2 linked regions of the Homo sapiens genome follow. The protein of the gene in region 2 interacts with the protein of the main gene of each other region in a pairwise test. Each region holds a gene or a part of one and is shown on either strand. Other genes may lie near its edges.

Region 1 (3,009 bases), on a different chromosome or scaffold from region 2:
GTGGATCCCACTGTCACCCCGGCTGACTGTTTTGCACACTTCCTGCTTTTGTTCCCACTTCCTATCTAGGCAGGATCATAGCAGAGAGGGGGCCTTTTGGGGTGAGAGGGACCGAGCTGAGATAGGCTGGAGATGTCAGGGGACAGAGGCCATTCCAGTGATCTTAGTTCTGCCTTTCTTCCCACGGGTGGCCAAGGAACAGCCTGCTCTTTCTGTGTGTTGGAATGTTATTTTGTGGATAATTGGAGTATAGTAGCATGTCCCCACAAGAGTTGAGAGTTGTGGTTCATCCTCTACCATCACGGGCTCTATTACACTCTTCCCTCTCTGCCCCCACAAGGCTCTGGCGGCTCTTTCAATCTCTCAGGATCTGGAGACATGTTTCTGGGGATGCCTGGGCTCAACGGAGATTCCTATTCTGCTTCCCAGGTCAGATGCCCATCTCCTCTCGAATAGGGCTTTCCCCAACTCCATTTCCTCTACTTTAGGATACAAGACCTCTTTCCTCTGAGGCTTCTCTTCACTGTCATACCTTCCTCTGCTGCCTGCAGGTGGAATCACTCCGACACTCGATGGGGCCAGGGGGCTATGGGGATAACCTCGGGGGAGGCCAGATGTACAGCCCACGGGAAATGAGGGTGAGTGGATCCTGAAGCTCCTCTCTGTCCAGTTCTCACAGGACAGAGGGGCATTTTCCCTAGTAATGTTGTGCCCACACAGGGTTCCCAGGGCTTTCTCTGTTTTCTGTACTCTGTCTCTCCTTTCAGGCAAATGGCAGCTGGCAAGAGGCTGTGACCCCCTCTTCAGTGACATCCCCAACGGAGGGACCAGGGAGTGTTCACTCTGATACCTCCAACTGATCTTGCCCCTCAGGGTCACAGGGGTGGGGGCTCTCACAAGGCGACTTGAAGAGGACGCAGGCTTCCAGAGGACAAACCCCAATACAGGAGAAGCACAAGACAGAGAAGGGCCAATGGGGTCATCCCCTCCCTAACGAGACTCTCTGTGCTGGGGGTGCTAATTACATGGCAGGAAGAATGGGGCCTCTAAGGGGAGTGTGGGGTCTGTCTCTCCCTTTTTTCCATCTTTTTCCTCTCTCGCTTTCTTTCTTACACAGAAACATACACATACCGAGAAACCTATTTCTCAGACCCCTTTTTCTCCTCTGTCTTTCTCTCTCCCTCTCCCACACCTCACACACACATACTCCCACTTGCAACTATTCTGTTTCTCTCCTGGGCTCCCCCACTTTCCCTTCCCCACCCCACTTGTATGCTCTGGAATCTGTGGAGACGCCAGCCCTGCCCAATCAGAGATGCCAAAAATGGGGACATGACTTCTGGACAGAGGACATGGGCCACGCCCCCATGCATCCCCACCCCCGCCCCTCCGGACGGCTTACTTACCTCATACGCAGCTCATCTTAAACCAATAGAATCGCTCGGTGGACGAGAGTGTCTGACTCAGATATCTACCTCGGAGGGAGTTTCTGCTACTTTAGGGAATTATTGACTGGGCTTTGGGGTTGAACTTTTTTTTTTTTAAAGAAAGAAAAAGAAACCCTGGGATCCATCTGTTTTTTTTGTTGTTGTTGTTGTTTTTGTTGTTGTTGGTGGTGGTGGTGGTGGTGGTTCTTAATTTTTAATTTAGTTTGGGGAAGTAGCTTGTTTTTTTTTTTATAAATATGTTGATTTCTTGTCTTTTTTTTTTTTTATTTCTTACTTTCCCATATTAGGGGTGATAGCCAAAGGGGTTCTGGTAAGAGAAAGGGGGACAAACAGAACTGGTAAAGAGGCCCCCCTGGCTCCAGGCCTGTCCATCAGGAAGTAAATTTTACAGGGCACCAAGCTTTGCCCCCTAAAATCCCTTAGGTGTTCTTTGTTCATGCAGGCAGGTTTCTGCCGCATTTGATGTGGAGGCAGTGAAGGGCTTGCCCTGCTGGCCTCTCATCCCCCTTCTTCCCACAACCCTTGGGCAGGGCTGGACTCAGTAATTTTGAGGAAATTGAAGATGCCATCTTCCCCTGTGAGTGACATGTCTTTAATTTTTTAAAAAACTACTATTTGAAAATTGGAGGGGGAAGAATGGGAAGGGAGTTATTGCCAAATATGTTAAATATGGGTTGGGGTGCTTGTATATGTATCTTCCTCAATTTCCCCATAAATGAGGTATCTTTTTGTCACACCAAAATCAAGGGGTAGGGAGAGGGAGGAGGTTGCAAAAAGCCAGATGTGGGGGAAAAGTAACATCAACACTGTCCCATCCTCAGCCCTGAACTAGCTACCATCTGATCCCCTCAGACATTCTCAGGATTTTACAAGACTGTCAGAGTGGGGAACCCCTCCCATTAAAGATCCGGGCAGGACTGGGGACAGGTTGGAAGTGTGATGGGTGGGGGGGTGGGAGGCATGGGCCGGGGGCAGTTCTCTCCTCACTTGTAAACTTGTGTAGTTTCACAGAAAAAAAACAAAATGCAGTTTTAAATAAAGAAATTTCTTTTTTCCCTGGGTTTAGTTGAGAATTTTTTTCAAAAAACATGAGAAACCCCAGAAAAAAAATGATTTTCTTTCACGAAGTTCCAAACAGGTTTCTCTCCTGTTCCCCAGCCTTGCCTTCATGATGCAGGCCCAATTGCACCCTTGCAGACAACAGTCTGGCCTGAACCCTATTGATGCAACTTTGCGCAATCAAGATGGGGCTCCAGTGGGTCACCAGGCAGCCCTGATGGACTGATGGAATAAATAGGATCGGGGGCTCTGAGGGAATGAGACCCTAGAGGGTACACTCCCCATCCCCCAGGGAAGTGACTGTACCCAGAGGCTGGTAGTACCCAGGGGTGGGGTGATAATTATTTCTCTAGTACCTGAAGGACTCTTGTCCCAAAGGCATGAATTCCTAGCATTCCCTGTGACAAGACGACTGAAAGATGGGGGCTGGAGAGAGGGTGCAGGCCCCACCTAGGGCGGAGGCCACAGCAGGGAGAGGGGCAGACAGAGCCAGGACCCTGGA
Region 2 (7,095 bases):
GAACATGGCAAAACCTTGTCTCTAGGAAAAATAGCCAGGTATGGTGGCATGTACCTTAGTCTTAGTGATGTGGGAGGATTGCTTGAGCCTGGGAGGCAGAAGTTGCAGTGAGCTAAGATTGCAACGCTGCAGTCCAGCCTGGGTGATAGAGTGAGACCCCATCTTAAAAATAAAATAAAGATATAAATGACATCCAATAAAGTACACATATTTGAGCTGTAGGATAAGTCTTGAATTTTATTATAATCCCGTGAAACCATCATCAGAGTCACCATAATGAATTTATCTAATCTATCACCTTTGTATTTACTTGGAGCCTTTATAAAGTTTTTCTCTCTGCTCTTCAAACAACCATTGATTTACTTTGCTGTATGATGGAGTACTTTCCATTTTCTGGAATTTTCTGACTGATGTAATAAAGTGTTTCCTCTTATAATCCCTGGGTGCTCTCCTGCATCATGCTTATTTTGATGTCATTGTAGATATATGAGTTGTTCATTCGTTTTATGTTGCTGAGAAGTATAGTCTGCCGTGAAATGTCATTGTATATTCATTCATTCATCCATCCATTTATGGATATTTTAGTTGCTGCATACTTTTTTTTTTTTTTTTTTTCAAGACTCTCTACCAGGTTGGAGTGCAGTGGTGTGATTTTGGCTCATTGCAACCTCCACCTCCCAGGTTCAAGTGAGTCTCCCACCTCAGCCTCCCACGTAGCTGGGATTACATGCGTAAGCCATCATGCCCAGCTGTTTTTTGTATTTTTAGTAGAGATGGGGTTTCACTGTGTTACCGGGTTCATCTCAAACTCTGGGCCTCAAGTGATCTGCCTGCATTGGCCTACAAAAGTGCTCAGATTACAGGCCTGAGCCATGAGCCACCGCACCTGTAATTGATTCTGAGGCCAGGCACGATGGCTCACGCCTATAATCCCAGCACTTTGGGAAGCGCAGGTGGGTGGATCACTTGAGGTCAGGAGTTTGAGACCAGGCTGGCCAACATGGTGAATCCCCATCTGTACTAAAAATACAGAAATTAGCCAGGCATGGTGGCGCATGCCTGTAATCCCAGCTACTCACTCAGGAGGCTGAGGCAGGAGAATCACTTGAACCCAGGAGGCAGAGGTTACAGTGAGCTGAGATCACACCACTGCACTCCAGCCTGCGCAACAGAGTGAGACTCTGTTTCAAAAAAGAAAAAAAAAAATTTATTCTGAGATAATCCCAGTTCCCAGTGTGAAACTATTCCTGCAGTCACTGGAAAATAATAACCACTTTCTTGTAAGGAGATGAAATTTTGGAGCTCAGATGCCGTGTTTATATTGTTATTCAGATGGCCTTTTTAACCTGTGCTTTAATGGTGAAAGTTGTAGCGACTGATGTGTGTACCACAATGGCATTGGCTAAGTTGCTCGTCCTTTGAGATAGATGTCAATGTGATTAAAGAAATTGAGTACACCTTAGCATATGAATTAAGAAACATATTGACATAGTGATCCTCATAGTGACATAGATCAGCAGGACTTGTGTTCTGAGCACTGGTCATGACCCTGCTCATGATGAAACAGGATCTGGTCAAAACAGGATGCACTAAAGAAACCAGCTGAAAGCAGTAAAACTAAGATGGCAAGAATATGAACTCTAGTTACCCTCATTGCCTCACTGCTCATTATATGCTCATTATAATGTATTAGCATGCTAAAAGACACTCCCACCAGCACCATGGCCGTTTACAAATGCTATGGCAATGCCCAGAAGCTACCTCATGTAGTTTAAAAGAGAAGGAACCCCTGGTTCTGGGAACTCCCCACTCTTTTTCTAGAAAATTCATGAATAACCCACCTCTTATTTAGCACATAATTAAGGAGTAGCTATAAATATAGCTAGCCAACAATCCACGGGTGCTACTTTGCCTGTGGAGTAGCCCTGCTCTGTCTGTGGAGCAGCCATTTTCCTGTTCTCTTGCTCTCATAAACTTGCTTTGCCTTCACTTTACACTCTTGGCTTGCTCTTGAATTATTTCCTTTATGAAGCCAGGAACCCTCCTGGATTGAGCCCCAATTTTGGGATTTGCTAGCATCACTAGAGCAATTTTCTGTGGGAACCAGTGGCCAACTGCCAGCTTCACTACCTGCTTCAGGGTGTACCAACATCCGTCTATTTCCCTGTCATTAGATCTTTATTATTATTTTATTTTTTTGAGACGGAGTCTAGCTCTGTCGCCAGGCTGGAGTGCAGTCATGCGATCTCAGCTCATTGCAACCTCTGCCTCCAGAGTTCAGGCGATTCTCCTGCCTCAGCCTCCCGAGTAGCTGGGACTACAGGTGTCTGCCACCATGCCCAGCAATTTTTTTAACATGGGTTTTGCTGTGTTAGCCAGGATGGTCTTGATCTCCTGACTTCATGATCTGTCCACCTCGGCCTCCCAAAGTGCTGGGATTACAGGCGTGAGCAACCGTGCCCGGCTAATTTTTTTATTTTTATTAGAGATGGGGTTTCACCATATTGGTCAGGCTGGTCTCGAACTCCTGACCTCATGATCCACCTGACTCAGCCTCCCAAAGTGTTGGGATTATAGGCATGAGCCACTGCACCCAGCAATTTATTTATTTTTTATTTTTTATTTTTTTTGAGACAGAGTCTCACTCCTGTTGCCCAGGCTGGAGTGCAATGGCATGATCTCGACTCATCGCAACCTCCACCTCCAGGGTTCAAGTAATTCTCCTACCTCAGCCTCCCGAGTAGCTGGAATTGGAGGCATGCAGCACCATGCCTGGAAAATTTTGTACTTTCAGTAGAGACACGGTTTCTCCATGTTGGCCAGGCTGGTCTCGAACTCCCGACCTCAGGTGATCCACCTGCCTTGGCCTCCCAAAGTGCTGGGATTACAGGTGTGAGCCACCATGTCTGGCCTTTATTTTTATTTTTTGTGGGTATATAGTAGTGTATATATTTGTAGATTACATTAGATATTTTGATGTAGCCATGCCATATGTGATAATCACATAGGGTAAATGGGGTCTCAGTCACCTCAACATTTATCCTCTGTATTATAAACAGTCCAGTTATACTCTTTTAGTTATTTTTAAATATATAATTAAATTATTTTGACTATAGCCACCCTGTTATGGTAGCAAATATTAGGTCTTATTCATTTTTGCTCACTGTTTTTTGTACCCATCCTGTCATCATGTCTTATGGAGAATTTTCTTTTGTTCCCAACAAAACAATGAAACTCGCAAAACTGACTGTAATGATTCAGTCTACGTGAATTTAAAGAGCAATCAATACTTAATGTTCTCAGCTCTGAGTGCACACATTGTAAGTCTGAATGATGCCAATGATATGGCCACTTAGATAAGTAAAGTTTGGGAGCATCTCAAATAGTATTTTTATTCTCTGGGTGCAGGATGAGCTTCCTAGAGTCTGATGTGATACCTATTTGATGCTTTTACAAAGAATCAATAATCTTCCTCCTTTGAGGTGTGAGCAGGGCTTTCCAGCAGCCCTCAGAATGTAACATGGTCTGCATTCGGTTTGCTCTTGGAGGATACCACCATTGTTGGCTGAGAGCTCTGGGAAGTACTTTACCCAGAAGGCGCTAGTTGCAAGGCCCAGGATGAGGGATTTCTGGGCATGCTTGTCAGGCCAGGGAGTACTGGGTTGGGACTGAGAAGGCACAAGAGGAGTAGTCATCTCTGCTCCCAAGTGGCAGGTCTGAGGCTCATAGGCACTGGCTGGGGTGATGCCTGCTCCACCCACAGTTGATGGCAGCAGCCACACTGAGGGACCTAGCTCAGGTAAATGCTGTGTATTACAGGCTTCACCCCAGCTAGAGTAATACAGGTAGAGGAACCAATAGGTACAAAGGCTTGGAGGTGCATCTGAGCCATGAACATTTCAGAACCTGGTAACCATGTTGTGTCATGGAAAGTGGGGAACTACATTACCCAGAAAGCTCTGCTTTAAACGACAGCCGGTCAGAGCCAGTGAGCACTCGGAAAGAAGGCATTTCCACGTGTGCACGTAACGTAAGGCCGAGACTTCCGGGGTCTCTAGTAGCGGCTGTGTATCGGCGATGCGGGTGTTTCCCCAGTTTGTGGCCCCTGAGTGCTGGGTGGGACCGCGGTGACTGAACCTAGAAGGTGGAGAGGAATCGTCCTCGGTGCCCAGAGGCGGCTCTGCAGCCCCGTGACGGCGACCACTGCTCCCGGGCCGTGCTTCCCCAAGTAGTCCGATGGCAGCGGCTGTGCCGAGGCGCCCAACTCAGGTAATTGTGGTGCCTTCTGTGCCCTCAGGTCACCCCATCGTCACCCAGGTCCTAAACCAGCGAGGGAGCGGCTCCTGCTCGTGGGTCTGTAGCCGGTACCCGGCGTAGGAACACTGAGGCGCTCACAGGAGGCCTCTCCTTGTAACCGTCCAGTGGGTTCACGTTGCCAGCTGCCTAGACAGAGCCGATTTATGAAGACTGGGGAATTGCGATGGAGAAATAGTAATTCACGCAGAGCCGTCCTGCTGTTCGGGAGACAGGAGTTTTATTATTCAAATCAGTCTCCCTGAGCATTCTGGGATCAGAGTTTTCAAAATTTGGCGGGTAGGGGCTTGGGAAGTGGGGAGTGCTGATCAGTCTGGTTGGAGATGGATTCATAGGGGGTTAAAGTGAGTTTTTCATGCTGTTTTCTGTTCTGGGTGGGATGGCAGAACTGATTGACCCAGATTACCGGTCTGTGTGTTGTCCGCTGATCCATCCAGTGCAGGATCTGCAAAATGCCCCAAGCACTGATCTTAGATATTGGGGAAACCAGCCCCACACCACCCAGCAGATACCCCGAGTCCTGCGGAGACAAAGGAGTTAGAAAGAGACAGAATACGCATTTAAAAGGCGGGTCCAGGTGGCCAGAGCATTGGAGGCTTCCTGGCGGCCCAGAGCTCTTGGGCTCCACCCAGTTTATTGGTTTACAAGCTCTTTGTTCTTATGGCTGATTGGAGGGGGAGGAAGCGATCAGGAAAAGGATTAATCAGTAAAGGAGAACTCGTGAGTCATTCCATAAGATGTAAAGCACTGGCCGTTTCTGTGAATTTCCTTGAACAAAGGCGTGTGTCTAAACTACTTAAGATCTTTAACTTAACTGAAACGGGTGGCTGCGGGTTTCAGGAGGAGCCAAGATGTTTGATTATGCTCCACTGCTTCAAGGGAGTGTGATCTCCCTGAGCAACCCATGGAATGCTGCTGAAGAGTTATGCTCTCGGGGCATAAAGACATGAAGGCAATAAGGAGACTTTTCTCCTCAGAGGCCGCCCATGGCTTCCCATGGGTGTCTCACACAGGGGAGACCAACTCAACTAGCACCCCAGAAACTCACATTAGGTTTTACAATAGTAAGGTTATCTTCAGGAGCAACTTGGGGAGGTTCAGACTCTTGGAGCCAGAAGCTGCATGACCCCTAAACCGTAATTTCTATTCTTGTAGCTAATTTGTTAGTCCTGCAAAGACAGGCTGGTCCCCAGGCAAGAAAGGGGTCTTTTCAGGAAAGGGCTATTATCAATTTTGTTTCAGAGTGAAACCATGAACTGAATTCTTTTCCAAAGTTAATTCAGCCTATGCCCAGGAATGAAAAAAGACGGCTGAAAGGTTGGAAGCAAGATGGAGTCGGTTAGGTCTGATTTCTTTCACTGTCATAATTTCGTCAGTTATAATTTTGCAAAGTCGGTTTCACCTGTTTCTGACACCAGTGGGATGCAGTGGGGAGAGTGACAGGCACAGGTAGGGGTGCAGGCAATGGCCTGCAGATGGACAGAGCTGGAAGGATGGAACCTGGGGTTCACAGGCATCTGTCAGGAACAACGTGTGAGATGGAGCTCTTCCTGGTAGAGCAAGCAGGCCAGGGGCTGTGCATTCATCATGAGGATTCTAGAAGCCATGGAGAGTTTTGAAGAAAGGAGGGACATGATCCAAATCCAGGCTTTTAAGAAGTTTCCCAAAGGCCAATCAAAGGAAGAACATCATAGAGAGAGAGGATGAGGACTTTGGGGCCTTGGGAGGTTGAATCCGTTTTGTAGATCACATAGATGGTAGAGATGACATTTTGCACTGAGAAAAGCAGGTCAGACAACCAGCCTTAGGGTTACCTGGTTCCAGGGACAAGAAAGGGTTCAGGGAGTCCTGAGCTTATCAAATCCTGTGACATGTTTGTAATGTCTGCCTTTCCCCTCAGGCACTCCTGGCTGCAGAAGCACTTAGGGAACCCACACAGGGAAGTGGAGGGTGTTCCATTCCCTCATTGGTCCTGACGCCATCTACAGGTTCTCTAGCTTGTGGTGTCCTGGGACTCTTAAGTGCCATTTTTTTCAGTCCTTTGATCCGAGGACCCTGGAGAATCTCTGAAGCCAGGATACCAAGTCCATGACAGGTTATATGGAGGTATTCCCATTTCTGTCAACCAATGTAAACACCCTTGTAAGATTAACCCAGGATTTGCTACCAGGTTGTGAAATGCTTAGAGATAAAACGGATCAAAGTCAGGAGGTGATATTACCACAGTTCTACCTGGCTACAGGCTTCATCTGGCTGGACCTTGTTGCATAGACTGTGGGTTGAGGGAAGAGGAAGAAAGGTCAGAGATAAGGCTCCTGCCATAATCCAGGTGAGGGTTAATGGATCAGATAAGTGGTAAATCACATGGGTCTGGATTCAGGATTCACTTTTTGTAAAGAGACAGCTAGGTTTTCTTTTTTTTTTCTTAACGTGGAATTTCAGTCTTGTTGCCCAGGCTGGAGTGCAATGGCGCAATCTTGGGCTCACTGGAGCCTCTGCCTCCCAGGTTCAAGCAATTCTCCTGCCTCAGCATTCAAGGTAGCTGGCATTACAGGCACCCACCATCATGCCCAGCTAATTTTTGTATTTTTAGTAGAGACGAGGTTTTACCATGTTGGCCAGGCTGGTCTCGAACTCCTGACCTCAAGTGATCGTCACATCTCGGCCTCCCAAAGTGCTGGGATTATAGGCATGGACCAATGCGCCCAGCCGAGACAGCTAGGCTTTTTTTTTTTTTTTTTTTTTTTTTTTTTTGAGACGGAGTTTCACTCTCTTGTCCAG

What was found. Proteins that work in one complex are often made in the same cells at the same time.
Region 1: the proteins of ZNF587 (region 2) and PBX2 interact in binary tests that used the Homo sapiens proteins (3 or more experiments, as listed by UniProt).

The regions. Positions count from the first base shown.
Region 1 is NC_000006.12:32,184,233-32,187,241, reverse strand, and holds the end of PBX2 (pre-B-cell leukemia transcription factor 2), read left to right. Parts: intron 1-340; coding exon 341-429; intron 430-551; coding exon 552-638; intron 639-767; coding exon 768-860; 3' UTR 861-2,509; downstream 2,510-3,009. UniProt on the Homo sapiens protein: Transcriptional activator that binds the sequence 5'-ATCAATCAA-3'. Activates transcription of PF4 in complex with MEIS1.
Region 2 is NC_000019.10:57,845,803-57,852,897, forward strand, and holds the start of ZNF587 (zinc finger protein 587), read left to right. Parts: upstream 1-4,056; 5' UTR 4,057-4,236; coding exon 4,237-4,269; intron 4,270-4,512; exon of another isoform or gene 4,513-4,759; intron 4,760-7,095. UniProt on the Homo sapiens protein: May be involved in transcriptional regulation.